Homo sapiens: one gene and its partners. The protein of the gene in region 2 interacts with the protein of the main gene of each other region in a pairwise test. Each region holds a gene or a part of one and is shown on either strand. Other genes may lie near its edges. The genes, in order: TESC, WBP11, UBASH3A and DDX17.

What was found.
Region 1: the proteins of WBP11 (region 2) and TESC interact in binary tests that used the Homo sapiens proteins (3 or more experiments, as listed by UniProt).
Region 3: the proteins of WBP11 (region 2) and UBASH3A interact in binary tests that used the Homo sapiens proteins (3 or more experiments, as listed by UniProt).
Region 4: the proteins of WBP11 (region 2) and DDX17 interact in a two-hybrid assay, tested with the Homo sapiens proteins (3 studies listed by BioGRID and IntAct).

The regions. Positions count from the first base shown.
Region 1 is NC_000012.12:117,095,849-117,104,074, reverse strand, and holds the start of TESC (calcineurin B homologous protein 3), read left to right. Parts: upstream 1-4,658; 5' UTR 4,659-4,792; coding exon 4,793-4,850; intron 4,851-8,226. UniProt on the Homo sapiens protein: Functions as an integral cofactor in cell pH regulation by controlling plasma membrane-type Na(+)/H(+) exchange activity. Promotes the maturation, transport, cell surface stability and exchange activity of SLC9A1/NHE1 at the plasma membrane.
Region 2 is NC_000012.12:14,792,746-14,800,660, reverse strand, and holds part of WBP11 (WW domain-binding protein 11), read left to right. Parts: intron 1-932; coding exon 933-1,026; intron 1,027-3,657; coding exon 3,658-3,854; intron 3,855-5,556; coding exon 5,557-5,690; intron 5,691-5,924; coding exon 5,925-6,124; intron 6,125-6,738; coding exon 6,739-6,930; intron 6,931-7,915. UniProt on the Homo sapiens protein: Activates pre-mRNA splicing. May inhibit PP1 phosphatase activity.
Region 3 is NC_000021.9:42,406,902-42,414,816, forward strand, and holds part of UBASH3A (ubiquitin-associated and SH3 domain-containing protein A), read left to right. Parts: intron 1-2,520; coding exon 2,521-2,707; intron 2,708-6,122; coding exon 6,123-6,321; intron 6,322-6,508; coding exon 6,509-6,622; intron 6,623-6,657; exon of another isoform or gene 6,658-7,915. UniProt on the Homo sapiens protein: Interferes with CBL-mediated down-regulation and degradation of receptor-type tyrosine kinases. Promotes accumulation of activated target receptors, such as T-cell receptors, EGFR and PDGFRB, on the cell surface.
Region 4 is NC_000022.11:38,488,941-38,496,855, reverse strand, and holds part of DDX17 (probable ATP-dependent RNA helicase DDX17 isoform 1 precursor), read left to right. Parts: intron 1-918; coding exon 919-1,060; intron 1,061-1,809; coding exon 1,810-1,970; intron 1,971-2,053; coding exon 2,054-2,226; intron 2,227-2,724; coding exon 2,725-2,835; intron 2,836-3,084; coding exon 3,085-3,146; intron 3,147-4,740; coding exon 4,741-4,800; intron 4,801-7,915. UniProt on the Homo sapiens protein: As an RNA helicase, unwinds RNA and alters RNA structures through ATP binding and hydrolysis.

The DNA of each region.
Region 1 (8,226 bases), about 100 Mb from region 2:
ATGAATCTGCATTTAACCCTCACAATGTTACATATATGAATCTGCATTTAACCTTCACAGTCACCTTACATGTATGATCACCTTACATATATGAATCTGCATTTAACCTTCACAATCACCTTACATGTATGAATCACCTTACATATATGAATCTGCATTTAACCCTCACAATCACCTTACATGTATGAATCACCTGACATATATGAATCTGCATTTAACCTTCACAATCACCTTACATGTATGAATCACCTTACATATATGAATCTGCATTTAACCCTCACAATCACCTTACATGTATGAATCACCTTACATATATGAATCTGCATTTAACCCTCACAATCACCTTACATGTATGAATCACCTTACATATATGAATCTGTATTTAACCGTCACAATCACCTTACATGTATGAATCACCTTACATATATGAATCTGCATTTAACCCTCACAATCACCTTACATGTATGAATCACCTGACATATATGAATCTGCATTTAACCCTCACAATGTTACATATATGAATCTGCATTTAACCTTCACAGTCACCTTACATGTATGATCACCTTACATATATGAATCTGCATTTAACCTTCACAATCACCTTACATGTGTGAATCACCTTACATATATGAATCTGCATTTAACCCTCACAATCACCTTACATGTATGAATCACCTGACATATATGAATCTGCATTTAACCTTCACAATCACCTTACATGTATGAATCACCTTACATATATGAATCTGCATTTAACCCTCACAATCACCTTACATGTATGAATCACCTTACATATATGAATCTGCATTTAACCCTCACAATCACCTTACATGTATGAATCACCTTACATATATGAATCTGTATTTAACCTTCACAATCACCTTACATGTATGAATCACCTTACATATATGAATCTGCATTTAACCCTCACAATCACCTTACATGTATGAATCACCTTACATATATGAATCTGCATTTAACCTTCACAATCACCTCACATGTATGAATCACCTTACATATATGAATCTGCATTTAACCCTCACAATGTAATTGCCACTTTGCAGATGGGGAAACTGAGGATGAGAGAGGTTAACTTGCCCAAGTATGGTTTCATAGCCCTCCATGACAGGAAGGTGGGAGAGCCAAATGAAGACCATCCTGGCCATCTCTGGGCTCAGCTGCTCTTTGCGGCTTGACAGGGACCAGCTATATGAATTGCGGTCACCACTTTTAATCAGCTCCTCCAGGAGGAGGTCCTCTGGGAGAAAAGACGCAGTTGCCTGGTGACTAAAGTGTTTCCCAGTCCTCCAAAAGTCATGCTGTGTTATTGGGGGGGATAAAGCTTGCCCCCCAGCAGGGTGCCCCTCTTCCAGGGCTCTAGACAAAAAATCCAATGAGCCCTGGCCAGACCCCATGCAAAGCTGCAGACCTCATTCTTGCTTCTTGCTTTGTTGACGCCTGCAGAGCCATTGGTAGGTTTGAATGAAAGCCATGACGTCCCGGAACAGGCAGCAGCTGGCTTTGCGTGGAGGGCGCCTTGCGGTGTGCACATCATTGCCAGAGGAGGGCAGAGCCCGGGCAGATGGTGGGTGCCACTGCAGGGGCCCCCACAGAGACATCTGTCCACCAAGAATTTGGCTTTGCTGTATCCCTTCGGGACCACAGTTGGGGACAGTCCTGGACTTCCTGAAGCTCAGCTTTAGGGATGACAGAGTCTCTCCAGGGGCCCATTCTGGTTTGAACATTCCATCTCTCTGTGGGCTCCATCACGTCAGCCCTTGTTTACCCATCTGCTTTGTCACTGCCCGTGTGTCTGTCTCCTCACCCCACCAGGAGTTCTTCAGGAGCGAAGGTGGCATCTTATTCCTGGCTGTGGCTCCAGGACCTAGCAAGAGCCCTGAACATAGTAGGTGCTCAATAAATGTGCAATGAATAAATGATTGAACGAATGCATAAATTGTGCCTTGGTTTTTTCTGCCTTCGTGCTGCTCCAAGGATCTCCTGATTACTTCTCCAAGCCCTGCTATTAGGAATAAATCCTCCTCTGTCATCCTCAGCAAGACTTCCCGCCTCCCAGCTCCCTGCTGACTGGTGGTGGTGGCTTGTTTGGCTGTGGACCCAGGAGAGGGGATGAGGACTCTGAGAAGGCCTCCCTGAGGATGTGAGTTTCCACTGAGGTCTGAAGAGGAAGCGGGAGTGCAAGAGAGTTTCAGGCAAAAGGAACAAGTACAAGTGCTTGTCTAGTAGCTAACAGCGGTCAGTGGGTCAGGGTAGACAGGTGATCGGGTAGGACAGACTCCCTTCATACTAGATACCAGGGGCTTCCTTGAGATCACCAAGGGACAATGTGAAGCCATGTGCCCTTCTCCTTGTCCCAGGGCTTTTGTCCCCACCAGAGCAACTGTGCCAAGCAGGAGGGGCTGATGTCCAGAGAATGCCACTTCCTATCCCCCACATCAGACAGTTCCATCATTTAATCCTTGACTAGTTTAATATAATAAAATTCCAGGAACTGACATTTTAAGTTGGAATAAAATTGCTCCCAGCAGCTGTACGTAATGGGCTGGCTCAGCGGCTCAGAACTCCCAGGGGTATTGGGGATCCTTTCCTGATCCCAGAGGCCTGCCTGTTTCCAGAATCCTTTAAACCAAAATGCAGTCCCTAGGTCAGCTGTCCTGCCGGCTCAGATCAGCTGATGACCCACAGCCAACATCTTTCCACCTTGATCAGGTCTTGCACTGCCCTCTGGAGAGTGCTTTAAAATGCAGATTGCAGGTGCTGCCTTAGCTCTACGAGTGCAGACAGGCAGTGGAAGAGGAAGCTGGATTTTCCATTTTAGAGACAGGGTCTCGTTCTGTTGCCTGGGCTGGAGTGCAGTGGTGCAATCAGAGCTCACTGCAGCCTCTAACTCCTGAGCTCAAGCGATCCTTCTGCCTCATCCTCCCAAGTAGCTGGGACTTCAGACGCACACCATTGTGCCCAGCTCATTTTTAAAAAGTTTTAATTGCTGGTAGAGCTGGGGTCTTGCTATGTTGCCCAGGCTGGTCTCAAACTCCTGGGCTCAATCCTCCTGTCTCAGCCTCCCAAAGTGGTGAGATTACAGACATGAGCCACTGCACCTGGCCAAAAGCTGGATTTGCAACCAGGAAGGGGCTGATTCTGATGCTCTAGGAGGTTTTAGGACCAACTCCCACCCTCTACCTCGGGCTCTGAAAGTCACCTCCTGCCCCTGGAAAGGGCTGTGACCCTTGGCTTGAGCCTGTAGTCTGCAGGAATGAACAGCAGTTCTCAGCAGCCCCCTTCCCAGCAGCCTGTGAAACTGATGGAGGTAGGTCCACCCGAGTCCCCTCTGTGGGCACCGAAAAACTCCTGCCCCCTACCCTGTCCCCCTTCCTCCCCAACATTTATCATCGAGACTAACGTTCAGAACAGACCTGATACCTGACGGTCATTGATGGTGGTGTCACTAAGCACTGCAGAGCCTTCAGGAGAGCCTTGACCTTGATGTTCTGCCCTGGCTGTGTGCCTCTCCAGGGGACAAGATTCCATAGCGCCCACCAGCCTCTGTGGCCATGTGCTGTGTCCACGCCAGGCCCTCTGGTGGACATCTCATTAACTTATCCTTATTTTAAGGAGGAGGAATCACATTACACAGGCAACAGCATCGGCCCCAGTCACCCCAACTGGATGGAGAGCCAACCCCTCAAGCCATCTTAACCCAGAACTTCCCTAATGGGCATGGGGACCACCGGCATTGCCTTCTCTCCAGCAGTTTGTCCCAAATGCAGCCTCCTGGGCCCACTTCTGCAGTTGTTTTTTTGTTTGTTTGTTTTTTGAGACAGAGTCTTGCTCTGTCGCCCAGGCTGGAGTGCAGTGGCAAGATCTCAGCTCACTGCAACCTCTGCCTCCCAGGTGCAAGTGATTCTCCTGCCTCAGCCTCCGGAGTAGCTGGGATTACAGGCATGTGCCACCGCGCCTGGCTAATTTTTGTGTTTTTAGTAGAGACGGGGTTTCACCATGTTGGCCAGGCTGGTCTCGAACTCATGAGCTCAAGTGATCCGCCCGCCTTGGCCTCCCAAAGTGCTGGGATTACAGGCGTGAGCCATGCGCCCAGCCCGCTCCTGCAGTTTGAGGTGCCTCTCAGCCACCGGGCTGTGCAGGGCCCACACGGGCCGCCACGTGGGTGTGTTCACCTCAGAAGGTGCTGGGGCTTTCCTGGAAAAAACCAAAGCGCATGGTGCATTTTCAAATAGGATTATTATTACTGTTGTTCTCCATAGAGCTATTTCATGCTCGCTGACTTCCTTGACTATCTCAGTGGAGTTTCCCTCCTAAGATCTGGAGGATGTAAGGTGGGATGGGTTGGGAGTGGGCATAGCACCTCCCAGGGGTCCCACCCCTCCTACCCACGCCCCCAAATTTGCTCACACCTGCTTCCTTCCAGATCCAGCAGGTGTGCGGAAGGGACGAGGTACGTGAGCACTGCTGCACGAACGGGGACTCCAGAGCGGTGGGCTCCGGGGTCCCCTTCCCGGCGGTTTCCGGGCCGGGGCGGGGCGGGGCGCTCCCCTAGCCGCGCAGTGCGCGAAACCGGCGTGCGCTAGGACCGCGGCGCGCCGCCCTCCGCCGTTATATGAGGCCCCGCTCCGGCCCCACGCGGAACCCGCGGCTCCGAGCCTTCGCCGGCGTCCCGACCCGAGGCCGGACCCGAGGCCAGTCCCGCCGCTGCGCAGCCGAAGCCAGTGCGGGGCCTGAGAGGGACGCGCGCCCCGGGGCCCCCGCCGCGGGCACCATGGGCGCTGCCCACTCCGCGTCTGAGGAGGTGCGGGAGCTCGAGGGCAAGACCGGCTGTGAGTACCCGCGGGGGGCGGCGCGGGGACCGGGGCGGGACCTCCGAACGGCCACTGTTGGGGACCCCGGCCCGCCGCCGCGCTGTGTGACCTTGGGCCAGTGGCGGGCCCTCTCTGCGCCTCAGTCTCCTCCTCTTTCAAATGGGTCCCCGCTGGCCACCTCGCGGGCTGCGGCGAGGAGCTCCGCGGCGATGCTCAGTGCCGCAGCCGCTCAGCTTCGGACTGGCCCGGGAACTCCCTGGCCGGGGGACTGCGGACCGGGGAGGGAGCGGGGCCCAGGCTTCCCAAGCGCAGGGCAGGTGCCTCAGGCCGGGCGGGCAAGTCCCTCAGGCACCCCCGCTGGCGCGCGCGCCCCACACCTGAGAGTCGTTTGCATTCGTGAGCGCGAGAGCGGAAAGTTTTGAAGTCGGCGGACCTGGGTGGGAACAGGTCTCCGACGCTCCCCGGCCGGGTGACCTTAGTCGGGAGAGCCGGCGCCCGGCGCCTGCTTTCGTCCTCGCATCTGTAAAATGGGTTCAGGCAGCCTCATCCCCGCGGGTGGCTGGGAGACTTAGCGAGGCAGCGGCCGCAGAGCACTTTGCCCGGAGCCCAGCGTCCTCCCCTGAGTTCGCTGAGTCTCCCGGGACCAGCAAAGGCTGCGCGCCCCGCATCGGCCCGGAGGCGGGGAGCCCTGGGAGGCCTGGCCGAGCTGCCCGCAGGGAAATGGCGGAGAAAGCGCTTCTCTGCCCGAGTTCAGCCGGGCTGGGGACTTGGCCCTGGGTCCTGAACTCGGCATGGCCAGTTCTGCCTCTGGCTGTGGACCAGGGTGTGGACTGGAGACCGCGGGGGCCAGGTGTGTGGGCAAACCGGCTTTGGCGAGCGACAGACCGGCTGTGAACCCTGCCAGCTGCACTTCCTGGCTGTGTGACCTTGGGCTAGTCACTTTACCTCTCTGATTCTCAGCTTTCCTTCTCTGTTGTAAGAGTTCTCCTAGTACCTGGTAGACGCTCAGGAAATGGGAGCTGCAGATATTTTGGGAAAGAGCTAGCTCCTGGCACCTGCTTCAAGTGCAGAGAACCAGCGTCCAGTATTGATCACCAAGAGAGGGTGGCCCAGCTGTTTGTGTGTCAGCTGAAAAGCAACCCCTCTTGACCCCCAATCTAAATACCCCTTTCCAGGAGAACTGGATGAAAATTGCAGAAAACCATTAATAACTGGTGTGTGTATGCACGCACTTATACGTCTATATCTGTATCTCTGTGTGTGTAGAGATATAGAAATATCCAACTAAAGAAGTAAAAGGTGTGGCTCAGCATATATAATATGGTACCCTTTTTTCTGTTTTTTAAAAAAGGATCCTTTGAGCTGGAGCCGCAAAGTAAAAAGAAATAGAAAATGTAAAAAGAGGGGAAAATAAGAGTATACATTTGTAATTGCTATATTTGCAGACTGGAAGAATCCACCAGAAAGTACGAATGGATGCTTGGTGGGGGTTGCGGGGGGAGTGGAAGGGATGAAGGGAGAGTGAGCTTTTTCTCCGTAAACGTTTTTATATGTTCATTTTGAACTATGTTGGATATTTTACTTACTCAAAAAGTTTTATGCACTTCAATCCGAAGACTAATATGAGAGAGAAAGGAGGGATTCCTCTAGCTCTTACTTGCTTGGGTCTCCTCTGCTTTTATTATTTCTCATGTGCCCTCTCCTCGCCTCCCACTGCTTTGAATCTGGATGGGTGTCGATGGGCATTCTCTGTGGCTGGGATCCCCGTTGGAAGGGTGGGCTCTCCGGCAGCCCACGGGGCACTCGGGAATTCCACCTGGTTGTGGGTTTGACAGGGAGGAGGGGCTGCAGAGCATGCTGGGAGTCTTGTCAGTTTCCTGGGTCCAGCCTCCCACTGGGATGACAGATGCTGTGTTCCTGCTCTGTAACCTTCCTAGATGTAGCTGCAGCGGCTTCCCTTCTTGCTGCCCAGAGCTCAGACTTCATAACCCAAGGGAGATGGAGAGGGTCGGAGAGGAGGTTCTGAGGTTAGACTAGAGTAGGCAGGTGGAACTTTAGGTAGGTGGAAAGTTGCCCCCAGTCCTCCGAAAGGGACTGCGTAATTCGGTCACTTTTGCCCACTTAGCAAATATTTATAGACCAGGGGCTGGGGATTTAGAGATGACTCGGAGAGGCTGCTGTTCCTGGAGGGGGACACACAGTAAACAAAACGCCCGACAGGTGTTAAACTGTGAACGAGGCATAGCAGGGTGGCATGAGAATGGAGCTTTAGGGTGGATCCGGAGGTCCTCCCTGAGGAGGTGATAATGGAACAGAAATCCAAGTAAGAATGAGCCAGGGGTGTGCAAATCAGTGGAAAGGGCATCTCGGGCCGAGGGGACGTCGAATGCAGAGGCCCTGTGGCAGGGACAAGCCAGCAACAGTAAATAAGAATGCATGAGATGAGGACACAGCTGTCGTCAGGGCTCAGGCTGTGGCAGGAGCCTGGCTTCAGGGGCCTTGCCAGGTACCTTGGGCAAGTCACTTATGCTCTCTGAGCCTCAGTTTTATCTACTATAAAATGGGCATAGTCATAGTACCTCCCTTGAAGTTGTTGGGAAGGATTGAGTTAATATACATGAAGTAGTTAGACCAAACACATGTACATGGTTTGTTATTGACCATGCTTTAAACACTCTTGTATGTCCTGGTCGCTCCGAGCCATAGCTGAGAGTTGAGTCTTGGTCCCACCTCTCTGAGCTACATGACCTTGGGCAAGTCATCTTACTTCTCTGAGCCTCAGTACCCCCACCTGGATCCTGAAGTCATTGTGTGGATTTGATAAGGTTACGTGCGAGACGATCGGCTTGGCATGGGAACGTCAGCTCCCAGAGACCCAGTGGGTCAGGCAGGGCCCTTCCTCCAAGGCCATTCCCTTGGGAATCTTCCCTGAGAAAAAGGGAGAAAAGCCTCAGGGTAAGGTGGCCAGAGGACAGACTGAGCCCACAGGGCTGCTGACTCCCCCGCCTCCCTGAGGACCAAGATGACCCCTGACTTTCTGGGGAGGAATCAGCTTGGTCCCTTTCTGAGAACACCATCCAGAAAGGACCAGAAGGTCAGGCTGAGGCTGGTGATAATGAACATAATTCCCCAAGCACCTGCTGAGCATCAGGCTCCACGCTGGTGCTCTCTGCATAACACTCTTTATAGTAATGATCCCCCAGGAAGGCAGTGTTAGGGCCATTTTACAGGTGAGGAAACTGAGGCTTAGAGAGGTAAACCAGCTTGCCTGCAGTCCCACAGCTGCTAAGTGGAGGAGTTGGAGATCATGGGATCCCCAAGCCTACTTTCTTTTTTTACAGTTTTTTTTAATTTTTAGTTTTTGAGGCAGGGTCTTGCTCTCTCACCCAGGCTG
Region 2 (7,915 bases):
TATTTTCTAGAAAAGGTACTTTATGCTTTTTATAAAAACTGTAAGATATACTAAGCCAAACTTTATTTAGGAACTGAAGTAACTTTGCAGAGAAGCTCACTACAGGTTATAATGCCATTGTTTGATTACTTTTCCCAGTGAGTTAAAAAATACTTTTGAAAATAATTCTTTTTTTTACTCATTAAAACATAACTGTTTTAAAGTCTACTGATGAGGATGGAAATAAACATGATGCTAGATAGCTTTATCCATTTTCCTGATTAGCTGTCTATTACATATATTACATTAGCTTAAATATATATATGTAGGTTTATAATATTTATAGATATATTAGATTTATATATCCATTTTCCCAATTAGCATTCTCCTCTTAGCTGTTGAATTTGTGGCAAAGTACTTCAAAAGAATTAGAAAGGATTTGCCTTATAGTATTGTGCTTTATAGTATTATAGTATAATACATTGAAGCAACACAGATTTTAAATAATGTTCGATTGTGTTTTCATGTTTAGCATTAACTCCTGCAAAATTTTTAAATATTCTTTATATAATTTTAGAATTTAGCTTCAACCTTTGCTTTGGACTTCAACTAGCAGAGGTTTTACAACAGGGGGCAGGAACAATCACCCAAGGTCTTCAAGAACATAAGGGGTTAAAAAAAAGAAATTTAAAGTGTATGTGTGTTTAAGTAACTGCTAAAGATCTCAGAGTTCAAAGAAATACTTTACTAAGAAAGCACATCTTAAAAATAGCATTTCTTTATCTTTTTGACAAGTGTAAACATTTTTAAGGCAAAAAATTACATAGCTGTTTCTGGTGGTTGAAACAAGTGATCAGAAGCCAAGGAGTTATTCTGTTTAGATTCTTAAAGCAAGTTGAAGTAAAACTCCTGAGTGCCTGACTTCTTGACATCTGCCCTTTTATTTTTCTAAGAACAAAAAACAGCGCATGATGGTTCGAGCTGCAGTTTTAAAGATGAAGGATCCAAAACAGATAATCCGAGACATGGAGAAATTGGATGAAATGGGTAAGAATTTACAAACAGGCAGCTATAACAGTCTGACACGTACAGAGGCAGGCAGGTAACGAGTGAAGCAGCATAGGCGTAAGTAAAACAGAACAGCATGATGGCATTTGATGCTTGGATTTAATGTTAGTTTCAGGGAGACAAAATGGAGTGCTAGAGGGCTGTTGCAAACTGGAGACCCCAGATACCAGAATAAGAGGGAAGCGATTATTTGGCTTTCAGTTAATTGTTATTGTGAGATAACAGAAGCACAGTTTGGCCAGCTTGCTTTTTGGGAGAAGACTTAATCTGATTTATGAAATAACCTTGGGTTTTTTGTTTGTCGTCTTTTATTTAATGTTGGCAACTACCATGTAAATCTAAGTATTAGGCCCCTGTGAATATAAGGCAATTTCCAATTTTTCCAATCAGAAGATCCAAAAAGATACTTATCCATTTAGTAAGGATATAGAAAAAAATCATCAAATACCTAAAAACCAAATAATAAAATACTATACCAGGATTCTCTGCCTTTTTCACATTTTATAGAATAGTTTTATTCACTCTTCATATGCATTTTAAGTATCGCTGCTTTGTTATAACTGGAATCACATGAAATAGCTGCATGTTATCTTTTTTTGCATCTAAGTTTGAAAATCATTGATGTTGCCACTGGAAATTTTATCCTAACCCACAAATATCCATTCTGTTTAATATTAGAACATGTAGAATATTTTGTTTTTTTAATAGAAATTTTCAAACATGCAAGAAAATAAAATAGTCTAGTTAACTTCCATGTGCTTTTCACCTGTCAAGTTTCTGCCACTTTGTCTTCTACCCTTTGCCACTTTTGTAAAATAGCATTTTAAAGTGATCGTTACAAGTTCCATGTTTTGCCCAAAAACAGAGTAGTAAGTAAAAGAGATGGAATGAAACTCCTCAATGATACATTAAATGGGGTACAAAAAAAAAATTCAGTCATGGCATTAGGCTATTACAAGGTTTCTGAAATAATGTGGGAGAATCTGTGCAGCTAGCCTGGCTAAGAGTTCTGGGTCAGGCTTCAGGATCCCAGATATTTCCCAGTTCAGTTGTAACTGATTCCACTTCCTGCCTCTGGTCTAAATATCAGCAGGGATAATTACTTTCCTTGGGGAATCAGGGAATCCTTCTTTAAATGACCCCAAATGTTATGTGTTGTTTTAAAAGGAGATAATAGGAATAACTGAGGTTTCTTGAGTAGTTGTCTTGCTATACACCTACGCACCAGTTTTTTTCCACCAGTTTTCTAATCGTCACAATTTTTTAGGGTAGGTGCACTGTCCCTATTATACAGGTAAGAAAACTCAGGCATGGAGAGATTACATAGCTTTCCTCAAGGTCACACTGCTATGTAGTGGCAAAGCTGAGATTAAAACTCAGGCATTCAGCGCTTTTACTAATCACACTAGGATTAGTATGGTGTAAGAATACGCCCTCTGGATTTGAATAAATTGCCAAGATTAATAATAGTTAATAGGATTTAAGGAAGAAGATAAATTTGTTATTCTTTTAAGAAAAAGGAAAGGGGTGAAGAGAATACTATTCATCAGGGGTCTAGTTACAATTTATAAAACTCAATACAGACTAGTTAAGGCAGAAAAAAGCATGCATTGGCTGTCTTAATTAAGAAGTCTTAACATAAAAAAAAGATGAGAAATCCCTGAGAGAAACTAGCCTCAAAATCCAGTCTCATCATCAGTACTGTCCATCTGTCTAGTCTGATGTCTGTTAGCCTCATTCAGCTTACTACTAATGAACTCCTTGGGATAGAAGGTGGAATATATGTGTGTAATTAGTGATGATTGAGAGACAAGGCCACAGGCAGCTCTAGGTTTGTTTTCTCTCTACATAACACATTCAGAAAGAAAATCTGAGAGCTTATCTCTCTCACATCTACATTTAAAATCTCAGGGAATGTTCTGGTCCCAGTTTGGATCATGTGCTAATTGATCTCTGAGTCATTCACTGAAAAGGAAGATGGGGGGATATGATTGACCAGGCAGGCCTGGAGGTCTTATTCTTGGGATAGAGGACCTGCAGTTAAGCCCCATATTGACACATGATTAGTTAGGGAGAGAAAGGATTGTATAGTAGCTAGGCCAGGAATACGGATCTGTTATAAAGATTATAGTTAAGTGGTGAGTCAAACACCACTGGATATTTTATTTGTAATCCCATTGTATCATCATAGCTTTATTACAAAGTGATTAACGTCTCCATTTTTTAGATGAGGAAGCAAAAAATCAGAGAATTCAAGTAAAATGCTTAAGATCTCAAAATTTGACAGGACTAACGTAGTAGGTAAACACAAATCTGACAGAATCTTCACGAGGTTTTCAGCACAGAGCAGTGAAAATTGATTTTTATTACAATGAAGATGAAAGTCAATTAGGTGGCATTTCTGAGAAAGGTAAAATTAGTGGCCATCTAAAAAGGGTGGGGATTTTAATAAATATTGTAGTTCTTCGAATAAAATTGAAAAGAGTATGTCTGGTGTCTAGATCTCTTAAAAATTTTTTAGCATATATGGAGGTTTTTATCATGTAACCTATTGATACCTAATTGAAGTGGCCTCTTATATTTAATTCCATAATCTACTTTTTCTCTTAGAGTTTAACCCAGTGCAACAGCCACAATTAAATGAGAAAGTACTGAAAGACAAGCGTAAAAAGCTGCGTGAAACCTTTGAACGTATTCTACGACTCTATGAAAAAGAGAATCCAGATATTTACAAAGAATTGAGAAAGCTAGAAGTAGAATATGAACAGAAGAGGGCTCAACTTAGCCAATATTTTGATGCTGTCAAGGTAATCAAGGTTTTTTTTTTGAGAGATAAACTAAAATATTATACAGATTGAGTATCCCTTATGCAAAGTGCTTGGGACCAGAAGTGTTTTGGATTTAGGGTTGTTGGGTTTTTTTTATATTTTGTTTTGTTTTTGTGTATATTTGCATATATTTTGGGGATGGAACCCTAGTCTAAGCATGAAATTTATGTTTCATATACACATAGCCTGAAGATAATTTTATAAATTTTGTGCATGAAACAAAACTACGACCCATCACATTAGGTCAGGTGTGGATTTTTCCACCATGGCATCATATGGGAGTCAAAAAGTTTAGGATTTTGGAGCATTTTAGATATTCAGATTAGGGATGCTCAGCCTATACTTAGATTTAAAAAGTTAATGGGAGAATGTCATGTTGAACCTCTTCCTTATAGCAGTTTCTTCTAAAACTAAACATATACCTACTGTGTGAACCTGCAAATCTAATCCTCTTTATTTAAACAGAAGAAATTAATTCAAAAACTTGGATCAGCCTAAGTGTTCACTAATAGGATAATGGATAATTAAACTGTAGCATATTTATACAATAGAATACTATTCAGCAATAAAAGGAATAATCTAATACTCAAAACAGCATGGAATAAAAAAAGAAAAATTGTGAGTAAATCTCAAAAACATGCTAAGTTTATCTCATTGTTATGATTTCATTTTTATGAAATTCTAGAATAGTCACAGATAATCTGTGCAGGAAAAAAAAATGTAGCCGTGGTTGCCTTGGGGGATGATATTAGAGATGGATTGGGAAGGAGTATGAGGTATATGCATTTGTCAAAACTTACTGAATTTGTAAATTTCGTAAATTTTACCTCAAAATAAAGATGGGAAAAAATCAAATGCTATAATTTCTGTAAAGGAGGTAATATGTCTCCCATTTTACAGATGAAGGCACAGGTTACCTTGCTTAGTCAAACTAAGCTAATACACAACAGAAATTCAACATAGGCAAGCTAATGAGCCCAACCTCCACCACTGGATATATACTATTTGTTAGTTGACATATATTATTTTTCTTTTTTTTGTTTATTTTTTGTTTTTGAGACCGAGTCTCACTCTGTTGCCCAAGCTGGAGTGCAGTGGCACCATCTTGGCTCACTGCAACCTCTGCCTCCCAGGTTCAAGCAATTCTCCTCCCTCAGCCTCCTGAGTAGCTGGGACTACAGGCACACGCCACCACAACTGGCTAATTTTTGTAGTTTTATTAGAGATGGAGTTTCACCATATTGGCCAGGCTGGTCTCAAACTCCTGAGCTTGTGATCGACCTGCGTCAGCCTCCCAAAATGCTCGGATTACAGGTGTGAGCTACCACGCCCAGCCTGACATGTATTTTTCTATCACATGTTAAATAGGGTAGTTCTGGTGCTAGATACTTGTAACAGTTGGCTTTCTCTAGACAACAGCTGTTTCGAATCATCCAAAAAGAATTACCTGATAAGAGGAGAAAAAAAACAGCTGGGTTCTGACGTTTTTAGAAGTAAAGATTTCTTTCAGTTCTTTGACAATGTGGAAGTATTGACGTAAGGTTATTTTTCTGGGGGTTTTTGGTGATATTTATGTTAGTTGGAAAGCATGTCCAAGTTACGAAACAGCTGACTTGTCATTTTTAGTGTTTAGTTAGTAGATGACTTTTTTATCATACTACTGAATGGTTCTCTGTTTCAGAATGCTCAGCATGTGGAAGTGGAGAGTATTCCTTTGCCAGATATGCCACATGCTCCTTCCAACATTTTGATCCAGGACATTCCACTTCCTGGTGCCCAGCCACCCTCTATCCTAAAGAAAACCTCAGCCTATGGGTAAGGAAGCAGTGTCACAATCAGAGAGCATTTAGTAAAGGCACAAGTTGACTGTCCAGTGCCAAAATTAATGCAGAGGGAAATAAAAGACAATATGGATGTAAACAGTGTGACATTTGATTAAATGTAAAATAAGAAATCCCTTGAAAATTGTTTAGAAGAGAAAATAAATATCTCATTACTGTTAAGTGATTACTGTGGGGGTTTTTTTGTTTTTGTTTTTTTTTTTAACAGACCTCCAACTCGGGCAGTTTCTATCCTTCCTCTTCTTGGACATGGTGTTCCACGTTTGCCCCCTGGCAGAAAACCTCCTGGCCCTCCCCCTGGTCCACCTCCTCCTCAAGTCGTGCAGATGTATGGCCGTAAAGTGGGTTTTGCCCTAGATCTTCCCCCTCGTAGGCGAGATGAAGACATGTTATATAGTCCTGAACTTGGTGAGAAGTGACTGTTCTTTTGCTTTTATAACTATCATTTTTTATGTTGGCCCTGTTTAACATATTGTTCACCACCCTCAGAACTTAGAAAGTAAATGAGAGGGTATCATGTACATAACTAATATACATACAGTTGGATAAATCATAGGATCTTCTCAAGTAAAAGCATCATACATAAGTATAGAAATGTTTATCGTGTTTTAAATTAGGCTTTTCCTGGAGATGTCACTCTTGCTGCTAATCCTTTAAGACTTGTATATCTGGTTCCCTTTTAGCTTTATTGTCATCAGACTAGAGCGTCATTGTATACATTCACTGACTGTGTATGTGTATACAAACATGATTGTTGCTAAAGGAGGAAATGGGTTTTCAAATTAGAACTCTTTTTAAAAAAATCTTAAATTACCAAAAAGAAGTGTTTAAAATTATTGGCAGAGGAAAATTTTGTTAGACTGTATGAGTAGCTATATATACAAGAATTTTTTTTTTTTTTTTTTGGTAAGAATTAAGTTGTTACAGTCTGAGTTGAATAGCATAATTTTCTGTATTTCTGGGTACCATGTAGTGGAGGGTCCAATCATACTACTTCTCCATGTTCCCTTCCCACTTTTCAGCCCAGCGAGGTCATGATGATGATGTTTCTAGCACCAGTGAAGATGATGGCTATCCTGAGGACATGGATCAAGATAAGCATGATGACAGTACTGATGACAGTGACACCGACAAATCAGATGGAGAAAGTGACGGGGATGAATTTGTGCACCGTGATAATGGTGAGAGAGACAACAATGAAGAAAAGAAGTCAGGTATGTGCAGATGAAGGATTCATGGTATTGATCAATAAAGAGAAAACAAGCTGAAGGTCCTAATTTATTAATGAATCTGTGAGAGTACTCTGAAATCTTTGGAAGTCGGGATCATAGCTGTGTTCATCTTATATATTAAAATTTTGAAAGTTTTTGACACAGTAAGTACTCAGTGGATGTTTATGAGGAAAAGCATTAAACTGTATGTAATAAAAATGTCTATGTAATAAAGTTCACTTTGGGGTAAAAGGTATAACTATTCAACAGCATAAACGTATTATGGGTATGTTACAGGAAAGAAAGGAGAGTAGCCATATTAAGAAAAACATTGATGTTGTATTTTATAAATCTGTTTAAATATCTACCTTTGAAGCCCTTTTATGGTATCTTACATGAACCAGGATCATAATTATAACCCAGGTACACTCATGAGTGGAATCATGAAACATATTATATCTATAATGTGTGTGTTTGATTATTAAAAAATTCAAATAGGACATTTGTCAAGAAAATTTTAAGCATCATAATGGGTACTGACAGTGGAAAATGCACACCAATTCTGTCAAACCTCAGCAATTTTGGAGCTTCTTTTGGGATTGTTTATGTGGCCTACAACAGAATATATAATACTATGTAATATTAATATTGATAATGACAAATTTTTCTCCTGCTGTGTCTTAAGAATCATGGTTGCAAGAACAAAAAAGCTGGTTAAAAATGATAGAGCTGGTAATGAAAGATAATTATAGAGGACTATTAGGTAGGAACTAGGACTGGAAAGTAGAAAGCCATTAGAGCCATGGCAGCTCCATTTTTTTCTGGGTCTGTGTGGTCTCTTGCCTTCTTTTCCTTTTATTCTGCCTACAGATTTTTTTTCTTTTTTTCCTTTTTTTTTTTTTGAGACAATCTCACTCTTGTCGCCCAGGTTGGAGTGCAATGGCACAATCTCAGCTCACTGCAACCTCCATCTCCTAGGTTCAAGCGA
Region 3 (7,915 bases), on a different chromosome or scaffold from region 2:
ATTGATGGAAAGATTTGAGACATAATTGACATCTTTGCTGATAGAGACTAGCGGCCACCATGCTCTCGGGCTGCCTCTGAGGGGAAGGGAGTTTACTGGTGGTCATGAAGCCAGGTGTGTGGGTCTAAGGGTGCCAGGTGTGTGGGTCGGGTGAGGGCTCTGATTTGAGGTGACCTCACCAGGTACCAGCTGCGTGAGTGATTCTTCAAGCCACCCACTGCCATGGGCCTGTTCTCTGCTCTGGGGATGGAGAGGAGGGCCACCGTTTCTCTAAAACCCTCTCCTACCCGGATGTGCTGTGGGGAGTCCTTCATCCTCTGCCCTGAGATAGCCACGGGGAAAATCAAACAATAAAAACCAGGTCCTGGGAGGCTGGAGTGTCCTCTCCAAAGCAGGAGGGCAGATACTGATCCTGGGTCTCTGAACGTGCAGTGTTCCCAATGGGATGCCCCCTCCTCCTCCAGAAAGTGTAGGCCACGGGCAAAATGGGCAACCCCTTCACAGAGTCCACTAAAGCCAGTTGCCAATTTTGGATCAGAAACAAGCCCACTGCTGTGAAGGGCATGGCCAGCACCTGCCCACTGCAACCCAGTCAATAAGACTAGGAACCCCACCAAAAAATAGGGAGGCAATGGGGTCCCCTAGACTGTCAAGAGCACCCCAACCTCTCACTAGTAACCAGGGAGGTGGTGCAAATTAAGATATCATTAGAGCAAACAAGGTAACTCCAAGTGTTGATGAGGGTGAGGGAAGCAGGGCCTCACACGTCACTGGTGTCACTGAGGAAGGCAGTGCTGGGTATCTGCCAACCTTGGCAATATGCACAGCCCACCAGCCTCCGTCGTGCGTCTAAGCAGATTCCCTGGAGAAATGCAAGGAGCCTAAAGAGACATGTACAAAGATCTTGATTGCAGGGTTATGAAATGGTTTTAAAATAAAATAATTTAGATGTTCATCAATGCGGGAATGAACAAGTGCAACATTGTATATGTATACATGAACTATTACACAGCCTTTAACAAATTCGCGCTGACAAACTTCACTAGACACGTGTGTATCAACAGGGATTAATTGAAAAGACATGGTAGAGGAAAAATGCCAGTTGTAGAATAATTTGAATAACAGCTTATGATTTATGTAAAACAAGTGCTATCTATAAGTCCGTTACTTAAATTTCTGGGAGAAGGCAAAGCAGCTTCACCCTCTGGGTGAACCCTGGAAAGGGGGAGGGTGGGAACCACGATGGAGAGGAGTGGCAACTTCTTCTGTGATTTTTATTGAAGAGAATATGGTCTTGCGTAAGTTCTGTTTCCTCTAGTGATTGAATACTACTTTCTAAATTGAAAATTATATCACAGGCACTTTGCTGAGTAATTAGAAATTCTTCCAAACCATGATTTCTAATGAATGCACGGTAAATAGATTTGCTATCAGTTATGGAGTTTTTCTTCTTTCTTCTAAATAACCCTAAATAACCTTCTAACTTTCTTCTAAATAGCCCTAAATAGATGGTTCATGTGCAAAGTTTTGCCTATACAGTACTTTGTGCTCTTTCCTCGGGAGAAATTTCTGGAAGTAGAATTATTAATGCAAAGAGTGTGGGCATTTTAAGACTCTCAATACCTATTGGCAAATTGCTTCACATAAAAGTTGAAAGGTCTGTCCTTAAGTCCTGCTGCATCTTTTACACATTGAGCAGAACTTTTATCCTTTTTATTGAAAAAATCTTTGTGAACTTGACAGATGAGAAAAATGCCGTCTCGGAGCTATTTTATTTCCATTTTTATTGTTAGTGACAATGAACTCCTATGTTGGGTCATCCGTCGTTTTTCCTTTAATTTAAAATAACTGTCTGCCTGAAATCCCAGCCAGTCAGGAGGCTGAGGCAGGAAAATTGCTTGAACCGGAGAGGTGGAGGTTGCAGTGAGCTGAGATTGTGCCACTGCACTCCAGCCTGGGTGACAGAGAAAGACTCCATCTCAAAAATAAAATAAAATAAAATAAAATAAAATAAAATAAAATAAAATAAAATAAAATAAAATAAAATAAAAACTGTCTGAATCTAAAGAAACGCAGCAGCTACCTAAATTTTGTCTAGGTTTTTGGTTTTGGTTTTTATATGTAATTTGAAGTTTGAGGTAAAATACAAATGTGAGGTTTTTCCACAAAATTTTCCCACACCATCAAGGAGATGCTGGGCCCACGGATCATTGGAAGACCAGGTTTTAGGTCTTGCTGTCAACTTTCTTTCATTTTTTCTACCTTTGACTTTGGAATCAGACTAAGGTGGGTCTGAGAGCAGGACTTACACTGACCAGGTCTGTGCCACACACAGCTGTGCCGCAGTGCCTCCCACCAGTAGGATGGCTGTGAGATTAATTTATGTCATGAGCATATATGATGTCTTCAGTGTGCCCTATAATTCTGCATTGCTGTCATTGTCATTCTGTTGTGTATCCTCAAAGGGGAAAACTCTTTTTGTTGTGACAGTGGGTGATGCCGGCTTGCTCTCTGTTGCAGGCTGCATGATCATTGCAATGACCCTTCCCTAGACGACCCCATCCCCCAGGAGTATGCCCTTTTCCTCTGTCCAACGGGGCCCCTGCTGGAAAAACTTCAAGAGTTCTGGAGAGAGAGCAAGCGCCAGTGTGCAAAGAACAGAGCTCATGAGGTCTTCCCACACGTGACACTCTGTGACTTCTTCACGGTGAGTCAACCCAGTGTGCCTTCAATGCTCACGGCAGCTGGAGGCATTTTTCTGTGCTAACTAGGCCATGATGGGACAAAGTTGACTTATTTAAATGGGATAGTCCAGAACTGCATCATTAGCTGGCACCTTCATATGAGCTGTCCTTTATTTTCCTCTTTGCCTTCATCTGGTCAACTCCTATTAATCCTTCAGAACCCAACTCATTTATCCTCTCCCCTTTTTGAGTCTTCTCCAGCTCCCCAGGCAAAAGGAGTTGCTGCCCATTTTCTCGTTCATGTGTCTAGTGGCACTTTTGTATCATACGGGCCATGTGTCTGGTGCAGCACCGCATCCCTCACCAGACCGAGTCCCTCAAGGGAAGGCAGATACCTCACTCATCTTTGCACCCCCAGAAACTAGCACAGCCCCTAAAACAGAGTTTGTGCTTCCAAAATGTGTGGTAAGTCAACTCAAGGATGGGTGATTGTTGGCTACCCACAAATGCAGAACTTTTCCCTGTCTCAGGGACCAGCCGTCTGATTCAGAAAAAAAATGGCCCAGTGGGTAGCTCCACAGCAAAACACAATGGCCCAGCAGGCAGCTCTACAGGGGCACCGGGAAGACAAGAAGAATGTGGGAGCTGCTCAGGAGAAAAGAAGGAGAAGGGAGAGACAGACAGCCACTGCTCTACTCAGCTCCGCCAGAGGGGCTTAAGGAAGGGCACACCCACTTCTGCTACCGCGGCCTGGCCCCAACTCTGCTGTTGGCAAACTGATTTGTTCCACCCATTTCAAGGAATTCCATCAGGGCCCAAGGAACCCTCCATTCCAACACCAGGCCCCTCGGTGCTGGATGGAAAGGAGGAATGCAAACCTCTGAAGGGAAAAGATTTCTGGAAGATGTCCCAGGAGAAGCAGTACCTTCCAAAGCCTCCAACCACCACCCCGGATTGCCCGAGACTTGCAGGGATCCCCAGAGCACAAGACTAAACCTGGAAAAGCCCCAGAAAAATCGAGAGAGTTTTCCCCCTACATCGACATCAATGGTACTTGTGACAAGCTGACTCCCTTCTGGTTCACCCTCTGGAGCCAACGGGGAAAGGCAAGGCAGCCCAAGCCATGTGACACAGCTCAGAAATCAGAGCAGGCCTTGGCCCCCCACTCCTTCCCCAGCCCACTGAGGTGCAAGCACACACACACACACACAGATAGACACAGAGACACACACATAGCTCACACACATAGACACACACAGATTGACACAGAGACTTACACATGCACACAGATACACACACATACATGCATACAGACATACATAGATATAGACACACAGACACACACAGATAGACACAGAGACGTACACACGGCACACACAGATACACACACATACATGCATACAGACATACATAGATATAGACACACAGACACACACAGACATGGAGACGTACACACGGCACACACAGATACACACACATACATGCATACAGACACACACAGAGACACAGATACACACAGACACACACAGATAGACACAGAGACGTACACAGCACACACAGATACACACACATACCTGCATACAGACATACATAGATATAGACACACAGACACACACATATATACATGCATACATGGATACAGACATACACAGACACACACAGATAGACACACATACACACTACATGTACATAGGTACACATGCAAACAGATACACACAGATATACACACACAGGAATACACAGATACATGCACATAGACACACACAGACACACACAGAGACACACATTAGATAGACACACATGCACAAACACAGACATGCACATACATGCACATACATAGACAAATGCACACATACAGACACACACATAAGCACCACATGCACACATATGCACACAGATACACACATGCATACACACAGACACACATATAGACATACGCAGACACACAGACACACATAGACATACGCATATGCAGACACACACACAGACACACACACATATAGACATATGCAGACACAAACACACTCACACACCTCCCTCTGTCGTTAGCTCCTCCCAGTCCCCCACCCCAGTTCTGGCCTGGCCGTGGTTAGTGGAGCTCCCCTCACAGGCAGAAGAGTGTAACGGAGACTCACTGTGTACCTTGATGCTGTAAAATGAAAACACTAATCTTCCGAAGTGTGATATTGATCACAGCTACACTTATAACATGACTATTCTTGAAAATTACATATCTGAGGCCAAGAAACACAATGTGAGACGGATTCAGGAATGGACATGTGTTCACTGGGTGGTTTTGTGTTGAGTGCCGTTGAGGGTTGCAGAGAAAACAGACAGGGAGGAATGTCAGGCCGGCCTGTCCATGGGGAGACGGAAGCTGCATTAAACACTGTGATCTGGCCTCATACTTGGGCTTGTAAGAAGCACTGTGGGAAATTCCGAGGGCAGCCCGGTGCTGGGAAGAGAAGGGATCAGGCCAACTCCCGCCAGGAGGGTGTGGTGTCTGGGTTTCCCCTGTGGTCCGATGTGGCCAATGGCACTGGGAAGGTTTTCAAGCCCAGGAAGCAGCCTCCCCAGGGCGGTAGGCAACACCGAGCCCAGATGTCAGGAGAGGCTGCGTCTGGCTGGAGGATGGGGGTGGGAGCCCCGTGGGCAAGGCTGTCGGGCCAGCACCTGTCGGGCTCCGTGGGCCTGAGGGATTCTCCAGGTGACAGAGAGCCTGCGGCCTCAGGGGTGGGAGCTGCATCAGAAAGAGGGTCCTGCAGCCACTCAGGGGGCATCAGGGAGGCCGGGCCAGGGGCTGTGCAGGCTCAGGTCCTCCAGGGAGCAGACCCCAAGGCAGAATTCCCAGTGCAGGAGACGCACAGGGGAGAGACTGCTGGTGAAGGCAAAAGAGGAGGAGAGGGTTGGAGGCAGGCAGAGCCTCAGTGCCTTAGAGGAGTCCCTGTGGAACCCGACTCAGTGCTCAGCCGTGGAAGAGAGGGTGGCCCCGCAGCTGGAAGTGCAGCTGAGTCCCGCTCACTACAGGCTCTGAGCAGTGCCTGGGCAGCCTTGGAGTCTGCTAGAAACCTCCAGAAGCCAAATCATGCAAACCTGAGCAAAGCAGTGTGCCATGGGACTGAGGAAAGGGCCTGGCAGGTGATGAGCACGTGCCATGGAGGGAGGGGATGCAGTTCAACGACCAGGGGATTTCCAACCTGGGCACCTAAAGGAGACTCCAACCTGCAAAGAAACTTACCTGAAATATTTGAAAAAACCGAGGTCCAGGTATAGAACAAATCCATAACCCCAGACACAAAGGGACGCAATAAATTATGTTACAGCGCTTTGAACAGAAAAGAATCTCACTTTAATTGCTGCCTGATTGTTATTAATTAAATTAATAGATGACTTCTGATGAGAGGTGTGGAAACACAGGCTCTGTCTCTGTCCCCTTAGTGTGAAGACCAGAAGGTGGAATGCCTGTACGAGGCGCTGAAGAGAGCTGGAGACAGGCTCCTGGGCTCCTTCCCCACGGCCGTGCCTCTGGCTCTCCACTCCTCCATCAGCTACCTCGGCTTCTTCGTCAGTGGCAGCCCCGCAGACGTCATCCGGGAATTCGCCATGACCTTCGCCACGGAAGCATCTCTCTTAGCAGGTGGGCAGCCCTGGCCAGTTGCAAACACAGGGCTGGATTCACAGTGAGTGAGCCCTCTGTGGCAGGGACTAGCCCCCGGCACATGGATGCAGTGGGTGGGTTCCAGGGGAGCAGAGCCCAGCAGCAATGGTGGGATGGCTGGGTGGGCTTTCTTCCGGGCTCAGTGGCTGCACCTGTCCTCACCCAGGCACTTCCGTTTCCCGCTTCTGGATTTTCAGCCAGGTGCCTGGACATGGCCCTAACCTGAGGCTGAGCAATTTAACTAGAGCCTCCTTCGTGAGCCACTACATCCTTCAAAAATGTAAGCCATTAGAAAGCTTCCGGACCAGCTTTGGTCTTCTCTTTAGGCGGGAATAGCCTTGTTCTCATTATGTGGTTTTTAAAATGCTTAGCTATATGCCAACAGCCTGGGAAAGTGCCCCAGAAGGGTGTGCCAAGCATCAAGCCTGAGTGGGTGACTGTGACGGGGTTGGAGGCTGGTGCACACAGGGAGTCAGGGCCTCCCCACCCCAGCCTTGAGTGGGAGACACACAAGTCCTACGTGACTTATTTCTGTATTTTCAGTATGAGCTTAGTGCTCTCTCCTTGGCCTCTCCAGGGAAAGATTATTTAGACTCATATTCAGAATCATCAAAATTCCCTTCTCTCCAAACACCAGCCCTGGCCTGGAGACCAAGGCTACCATTGGGGTTTAGTGGAAAGGATTGTGGACTTGACGTCAGAAGATGTGATTTTTTTCTGTGTCCCTGATGAGTGGCATGACCTTAATCAAGTCATGTCCACTCTCTCTGTCTCTTTTTCTTTCTCTACAAAACAATGAGGGCTCTCACTCTTCAAGAACAATGTTGCCTGAGTCTGTGGCCCATCCTGCCATAGTTCCCGGGACACAGAAGGCACTCAGTATTGCTGAGATTTGCCGACTCTAAAATCTGACGAGGCCGCAGTGCCTTGGTGGGAGGGCTCCCCACTTTCTCTCTCTGGGAGCGTGTCTGTCTGTGCTCAGACATGTATGAAGCACAGATCCTGGCCTGTAAATCCATCCCTGAATCCTGGGCTTCCACTTGGATGGCAGCTTGTGAGTCTGGAGATCGAATCTGCTGAATAATTAGAAAGTCGCCCCCGGTCTTTGTGGATTAGTATCCTTTATCAAATGATGGCTCTTTCACACCCAGGCCCTCCCCCAGTGAACCTCATTGGCAGCATCTTAAAAACAGGAAGACTGAGGCTGCAAAGGGTGAAGGGCCTGCCCAAGGTCCTGTGGTGTGTAGAGCGGTGTCCCCTAAAAATGTTTGTCCACCAGGAACTTGGGAATGTGACCTCACTTGGGAATAGGGCCTGTGCAGATGCGATTGGTTGGGAGGAGGTCACACTGCATTAGGGTGGGTTCCCGTAAGGGTAGAGGCCGCACAGAGACACAGAGAAGCCATGTGCCGACTGAGGCAGAGACTGGAGTGATGTAGCCACAAGCCAAGGGACGCCTGGGGCCACCGGAAACTGGAAGAAGCCAGGAAGGACCCTTCCCAGGAGCTTTCGGGGAGAGCACAGCCCTGCCAACACCTTGATTTTGAACCTCTAGTCTCCAGAAATGGGAGGC
Region 4 (7,915 bases), on a different chromosome or scaffold from region 2:
AAAGCAAGTTTCATAATTTAATTTGAATGGTATATGATACCTTGATTTTTGTATTATTTGGCCAGATTGTACACAGTCTTGTCAGATTACATGTAAATTTTCATTGTTTTTGCCTTATCTACCTGGTGATGTGCTTAAATTAGAGGTCAGGAATGTGTCATTCTGCCAGTTTAAGTCAGGATGACCATCCAAAATTCCAAATTTTAGGCCAGGCATGGTGGCTCACACCTGTAATCCCAGCACTTTGGGAGGCCAAAGTGGGCAGATCACATGAAGTCAGGAGTTCGAGACTAGCCTGGCCAACATGGGGAAACCCCCATCTCTACAAAAATACAATAATTAGCTGGGCATGGTGGTGCCTGCCTCTAGTCCCAGCTACTCAGGAGGCTGAGGCGCAGGAGAATCATTTGAACCCAGGAAGCAGAGGTTACAGTGAGCCTTCATTGCACCACTGCACTCCAGCCTGGGCGATAGAGTGAGACTTTGTCTCAGAAAACAAAACAAATCCAAATTTTGAGGACCAATATGATCCTCAAAGTAAATGCTTGCTGGAGCATTTTGGTTTTGGGGGTTTAGGATGCTCAACCTGTAAATGAGAGTTGTATACTTAAAACCAGGTAATACAATCTATATCTCCACTTAAACAGTATATATAAACTATAATGATTGATAATGTGTCATAGTAAAAGTGACGAGGATACCAGTATCATTCCAAATGCTAAACATGAAGTTCTAATAATTTTTTTCTATATTCCATTGTGCTAATATTCCCCACTTCTGATCTTCACCCCATCACTTTTAATGTGCTAGATTAGACAGCAAAGAATTAAATTAGCTTTTTGTATTTTGTTTCTTCTTTTTTTTTTTTTTTTTTTTAAACCTTGGATGAGGTCTCAAGTGTCTTTTTGTTGGTTTCAGTGTCTAGTTCTGGCTCCTACCAGAGAGCTTGCCCAGCAAGTACAGCAGGTGGCCGATGACTATGGCAAATGTTCTAGATTGAAGAGTACTTGTATTTATGGAGGTGCTCCTAAAGGTCCCCAGATTCGAGACTTGGAAAGAGGTAATAATATATAGTGTAAAAGAATTGTTAGTTTATCTTACTTTACCAATTCCTGTGGAGGAAATTGGAGAAAAAAAGTGGGTTCTTGTGATAAACTCAGAATTTCAGCAGCTTAGAAATTCTCAGATGTGACTAAAACAGCTATTTTGAGAGAGAAGGTTCAGCATGGCTGGAAACTTTGTGAGGATTTGGTGATTGTACATAAGTCCTGACATGGTTTTGCGGTTACTTTGTTAAAATTTAGCTTCTCTGGGCCAGTGCGGTGGCTCATGCCTGTAATCCCAGCACTTTGGGAGGCCGAGGTGGGCGGATCACGAGGTCCAGAGATTGGGACCATCCTGGCTAACATGGTGAAACCCCGTCTCTACTAAAAATACGAAAAATTAGCCAGGCGTGGTGGCAGGTGCCTGCAGTCCCAGCTACTGGGGAGGCTGAGGCAGGAGAATGGCGTGAACCTGGGAGTCGGAGCTTGCAGTGAGCCGAGATCGTGCCACTGCATTCCAGTCTGGGTGACAGAGCAAGACTCCATCTCAAAAAAAAAAAAAAAAATAGCTTCTCTGCAGCATTGAGTACAGCCACCAGGGCTGCTGCTGCTGCATTTTTGTAGAGTCGGGGTCTTGCTATGTTGACCAGGCTGGTTGTGAACTGGCCTCAAGCGATCTTCCCGCCTCCTCTTCCCAAAGTGCTAGAACACAGCTGTGAGCCACTGCACCTAGTCGATTGGCTCGATCATTGGTTTTGTTTTACAGGTGTTGAGATCTGCATAGCCACTCCTGGACGTCTGATAGATTTCCTGGAGTCAGGAAAGACAAATCTTCGCCGATGTACTTACCTTGTATTGGACGAAGCTGACAGAATGCTTGATATGGGGTTTGAACCCCAGATCCGTAAAATTGTTGACCAAATCAGGGTGTGTAAAGCTAATAATAAGCAGTCTTTATGCCATTTGTCCAAGTTCCTTAGCCTGAAAGAAAGCCTTTCCTTTTTTGATAGCCTGATAGGCAGACACTGATGTGGAGTGCAACCTGGCCAAAAGAAGTAAGACAGCTTGCAGAGGATTTCCTTCGTGATTACACCCAGATCAACGTAGGCAATCTGGAGTTGAGTGCCAACCACAACATCCTCCAGATAGTGGATGTCTGCATGGAAAGTGAAAAAGACCACAAGTATGAAAGATATTTTACTCTGATTTGATAATGCTGATAAACCTTTTCTAATAACCCTCCAAAATTAGTACTGTAGAAACCAGTATATTTTGAGGCCTGAGAACATTAAAAGCATTGCTAGGTTTCTGATAATCCATCATCATATCATTTGTCAGAGCATTATGGTTAAATGCAAGGATTCTGAATTCTTGAGTTTGAAATTTAGCTCTGCTGATTACAAGCTGTATAATTTTGCACAATTTTGTGTCTTGGTGCTGCAGTTTCTTCATCTGTGAAATGGGAGTAATACCACTTACATGAGACTTGCTGTGAGGATGGTATGAGTTAGTATTTCTTGAGCACATAGCAGAACCTGACTCAGTACTCTAATAGTTATTAAAAATTTTAAAAGCGTAATGTGCAAAGAAAGTACTGTAGCCTTGGGAGTTGATATTGCAGACATAATCGTCCACATAATAACTTTCTGTGTGATGACTGCATTGTTGGTCATGTTTTCAGGTTGATCCAACTAATGGAAGAAATAATGGCTGAAAAGGAAAACAAAACAATAATATTTGTGGAGACAAAGAGACGCTGTGATGATCTGACTCGAAGGATGCGCAGAGATGGGTGAGTATAGCACCAAGGCAATTAACCTCTGGTTTTATAGTTAACTGGAAATTTCTAAATTGGTATTCCAAATGTTGTGTAATATTTCAATAATGCCTATCCATGCAGTTTGCTCTTTTAATGAGCACAGTCATCTATTCATGAAGCCTGACAAACCTTACAAAAATTGCATGATAGCATTTGGCTTTAAAGTTCGATTTTCTCCACTTTAAAAGATTTTTAAAATATTGGTCACTTTTCTTCTGATAGTTGGCCAGCTATGTGTATCCATGGAGACAAGAGTCAACCAGAAAGAGATTGGGTACTTAATGGTAAGTTTAAAACTAAGCATTTTCTGTTGATTCCCCACCCCCTGCCCATAAGTGAATGTTCATGCTCTATTTCAGGGATAGGCAAACTTTCTGTAAAGGGCCACATAGTAAGTATGCTTGGCTTTGTAAACCAAATGGTGGTCTCTGTTATAGCCACTCAGCACTGCTGTTTTAGGACAAAAGCTGTAGGCTGTAGATAATATGTAAAGAAGTGGCCTGGACTGGGCACCGTTGGTGGCTCATGCCTATAATCCTAACACTTTGGGAGGCTGAGGCGCGTGGATCACCTAGGCCCAGGAGTTCAAGACCGGTCTGGGCAACATAGTGAAATCCTGTCTCTAAAAGAAAAACAAAACAAAACAAAACTTAGCCAAGCTTGGTGGTGCACGCCTGTAACCCCAGCGACTCCGGAGATTGAGGTGGGAGGATTGCTTGAGTCTAGGAGACAGGTTGGAGTGAGCCAAGATCGTGCCACTCCAGCCTGGGTGACAGGGTGGGACCCTGTCTCAAAGAGATAAACGTGGCTATGTTCAGACAATATTTATTTGCAAAAATAGGCGTTGTGCCAGATTTGGCCCAAAGGCCAGTTTGTCTTACCCCTGTTGTATAGTTGATTGAATTACTGAGGGTACTTTTAGCGTGTGCTCATGGTTCTTTAAGGGCCACGATGCTGGCTCTTTAAACTTTTTCACAACTTTCACCACCCTCCCTTTATTAATAAAGTCTTCAATTTTTTCCTTCTGATTATAAAAATATAACTACCGTTTGGGGAGAATTAAACTGTTACTGAAATATTTAAAGAAAAATGTTTCTTAATGAGTCATATTTTAGCATATTTCCTTTCAGTCCTTTTTTTCAGGACTACTCTTAAGGGAAGCCATTGAGAAATGGAAGAGGCCATATTTTGTTTAAGAAATAAAATGTGGCCGGACACAGTGGCTCACGCCTGTAATCCCAGCACTTTGGGAGGCTGAGGTGGGCGGATCACCTGAGGTTGGGAGTTCGAGACCAGCCTGACCAACATGGAGAAACCCCGTCTCTACTAAAAATACAAAATTAGCCGGGCATGGTGGCATATGCCTGTAATCCCAGCTATTTGGGAGACTGAGGCAGGAGAATCGCTTGAACCCGGGAGGTGGAGGTTGCGGTGAGCTGAGATTGCGCCACTGCACTCCAGCCTCGGCAATAAGAGCGAAACTCCATCTCAAAAAAAAGAAAGAAAAATAAATAATATGCATACCTTTTGGGGGGAAATTCAGTTCTTTTCATTCTACATCTTTTGAACTTGTTTCCTACTGACCCCCAACTTTTGGTTGTGTCTCATTTGGGAAATAACTTTAAGGGGAAAAAAATCTAGCTCATATTAATTATGTAACAAATTGCCACACTCTCTTAACGGTATTTCATTATTAGTAGAGGTAACTATTGTGCTGCTGAATATGAGTGTAATAAAGATTTTCAAAAGAATCACTGTCAGTCATTACAAGAGCTTGGGATTTTCTGGCACCATTATTTGAAATTTTAACATGGTTATGTAAACAGATCAGATAGCAAGGAATGCTTATTTGATGATGATTATTGTTTGTTTTTACAGAGTTCCGTTCTGGAAAGGCACCCATCCTTATTGCTACAGATGTAGCCTCCCGTGGGCTAGGTTTGTATAGATAGGTGTCTCTGTCAATGGTATATGTATCTTTTGGTTTAAAGATTCGTCATTTCAAATTCAGACTTCAAGTTTAGAAAGTTGTATATACATGTGGTTAGATAAATATTTGAAAGAAAAAAATACAAAGCGTGATTCTCCCCATTCCCTGCCCCCCCCACAATTTTTTTTAACTTTGGTTTCCCCCACCCCCCTTTTATTTTCAAAGTCTCTTCCTGCTCCTAACAAACAGGCTTTGGTCTGCAGCAAGGCCTAGGCATGACTATTCAAACAGAGGGAGAGGAGACAGACAGCTGAATGGCTCAGCTTCTCTCTGGTGGTGGTTTCTGGCTGGATAGAATAAGCCTGACGAAACCTAGCTATTGTAAGCTAGTTTCTTCAGTTATTCTTTTCCCTATCCCTGTCTAAGCTAGATATATACAGAGAGGTCCAGTTTTATGAATGCTTATTAGATGGAATTTTATAAGTCTAATGCAGTATCAGAATAGCAAATATGTGTATTGCCCAGTTTAATTTACTGAGGTCAAATTATCATGGGCACTTGGCTATCCCCTCCTACCCATGCACTTATCTGTAGGTGTGTTATCAACTGATGATTTTCTGGAGTTTTTGACCCATTACCATTTAAGATATACAGAGAATTTTATGGTAGTTTAGCCCACTATTCTGAGCTAAACAGGTCTAACTCAGAACTTCTATATTTTAAAAAAAAAGATTATTTGTATTACAAGGAAATCCTTAAATTATTGACAGGTATTTAATTTGCCCAGTAAGGTGAGAAGTACCATATTATTCCCTTATACTATATAATATAAAGAGAACAGGTATTCAAACTGGAATACAAAAGTAATGAAGCCTTTTTATGCATTGCACTCATCATTCCCTCCTTCAGAGGTGGTGACCTGCAGCCATGATGGAAAGTTCTCTCTGCCCCTCTGCCCTCTGAGGTCATGTCTGGATCTGTGCCATTAGAACTTGGGCCTGTTGGGAGAGGAGGCGGAGGCCTGAAAGCAGTTTACATAAAGCTTTCAGTAATGGTTGGTTTTTAAACAGGCTTGCTATGTGCTGGTAGCTTCTTTGTGCATCTTGCCTAGACAATTAAAAATATTTGCTCCATGTCCCCTTGCATTTCTAAACCAAATTAATTGGCTACCATTAGAATAACTTAGACTCTTCATCCCACCCCCACTCATCCAAGTGAGGGGAGAGGGAAGGTACCCGAGTCTGTTTCTTGTTACTCAACATCAGTGCTTGTTTTGGGCCCCTTTGTTTGCTGCCTTGTAAAAAATCAAAAGAGGGAGAAAACCCACCAAAATGGCAGAATTCTGACCAATGTCCTACAAGATCCTGGAAAGTGAAGGCTTCTACCTCATAGACAGGGGTGCAATTTTCAGCTGAGTCACCAGGGCCTTTTTTCACTTCCTGTCAAGCGATGGTCTCTTAAATGTTCCCTTCAGGTAAGTTCTTTGATTCCCATAATTTTATAATAGTCATCCTTAGGCTACCACTTCCCTTTCCACTGGGATATTTTTTATTTTTCCTTTTTTTTGTTTGAACTACACACTGTTAAACTAAAAGTATTGAATTTATTTTGTTTTGTTTTTTAACAGAAGCTTTGATATCAGCTGCAGATCACTCAATACATGGCCGAGACAAATCTACATTGGCCGGAAGCAGCTCTAGATGAGCCTCTTGGCTAGACTTAGTCCCTCCTTATTAGTGATTGGCGATTCAGGCCATGTCATAGGGCCTTTCAGACAAAAGGTTCTTATCCCAGTCAGCTGGCCAAAACATTAACTTTGGATTTCTTACCCTGCTACAGCATCTTCTAGAAAGGCAGCAAGATAATATTGTGGCAGTGCACAGATAACATCAGGGTAGACTTGACTGGAGAAAACCAAATTCTGCGCTTGCTCCTGTGTGCCCCCATCCAGCTGTGCATGCACACACAGGACACCTTTCTAGTATGAAGAACTTGCATCATGTCTGCCCTCTATTGAGCACCCCCTTCTAGAAATACTTCCAAGTATTAGCATGTGAACTGTTGACTCCACCCTGGTGCTTTCTGCTAGGAAAGCACACTTAACGCATCCAGTGTAGTAATTGAACTTGTTCTACTGCCATGGTCATATGCAGTGGGATTGCATAAGGAGCATTATCCTAGCTCTGAAGATACCATGGAGTAGAATTCCCCACCCCCTGTCTTACATCCACCCTGGCCCTGTAAATTCTTTTTTCCTTTGTTGCGTCAACGACCCTAGCCGGAGACTCAAGCTGCCCCCTGTGATAAGTGCCTTCTCGTCTTTCTGGTGTGATTCAGGACTTTAGGGGTCAGTAAAGACCGAGGAGCCTTTATTGTAATAAGAAACAGACATAATGCCCCTTCTTCACAAGCCCTGTAACAACAGCTAATTTTTTTTTTTTAATCTCCCCTTTCTCCCTTGAAATTAATCCAGTCTGGGCAATAGATGCAGTCTGACCCTTTGGATGTAACTTACATTTTTTTTTATTAATTATTTTTTTCTACAATCACCCCAATTATCCTTGGGGGAGGCGTTGGAGGACCTGAAATTTTTACCCGAACCCAGGTTCTCCGGCGCTTGGCAACCAAATGGGGCTACAGAGAAGCATCTAAGCCAGTTCACAGAGCGAGCGTGTGTGGGGACTTCTCACTGCCACGGACCCTTGATGCATGCTCCCCGCGCTCCAGTGGTCCCGTGTCAGAAGGCGGAGTTTTCGAAAGGAGGCCGCCAAAAATAAAAGGCAAAGAGACGGGATCGGCTGCAGCGGTTTCCCAAAGGAGGAGGGAGTGTGCATCGGTCTGGTAACAAACAGAGAATGTTTTTTAATTATTTATATCACAAAAATCTGTGTTTTATCTAGGATATTTTCTGAATATTCTTTGTAAAATGCAGATTTTTTTCCACAAAACAGTAGGATTCTTTGTTATATTCTTAAAATTGTTTGTTTAAGTAGGTAAAAATATACATTCAGCTGAAAGCATTACACTAACATTTACATTTTAAGCCTTAGGAGGTTATTCAGCCCAATTCCCAGCAGTAGAGAGAATACTAAACTTGTGTCTCAAGGTTTCATGGTTTTCCCA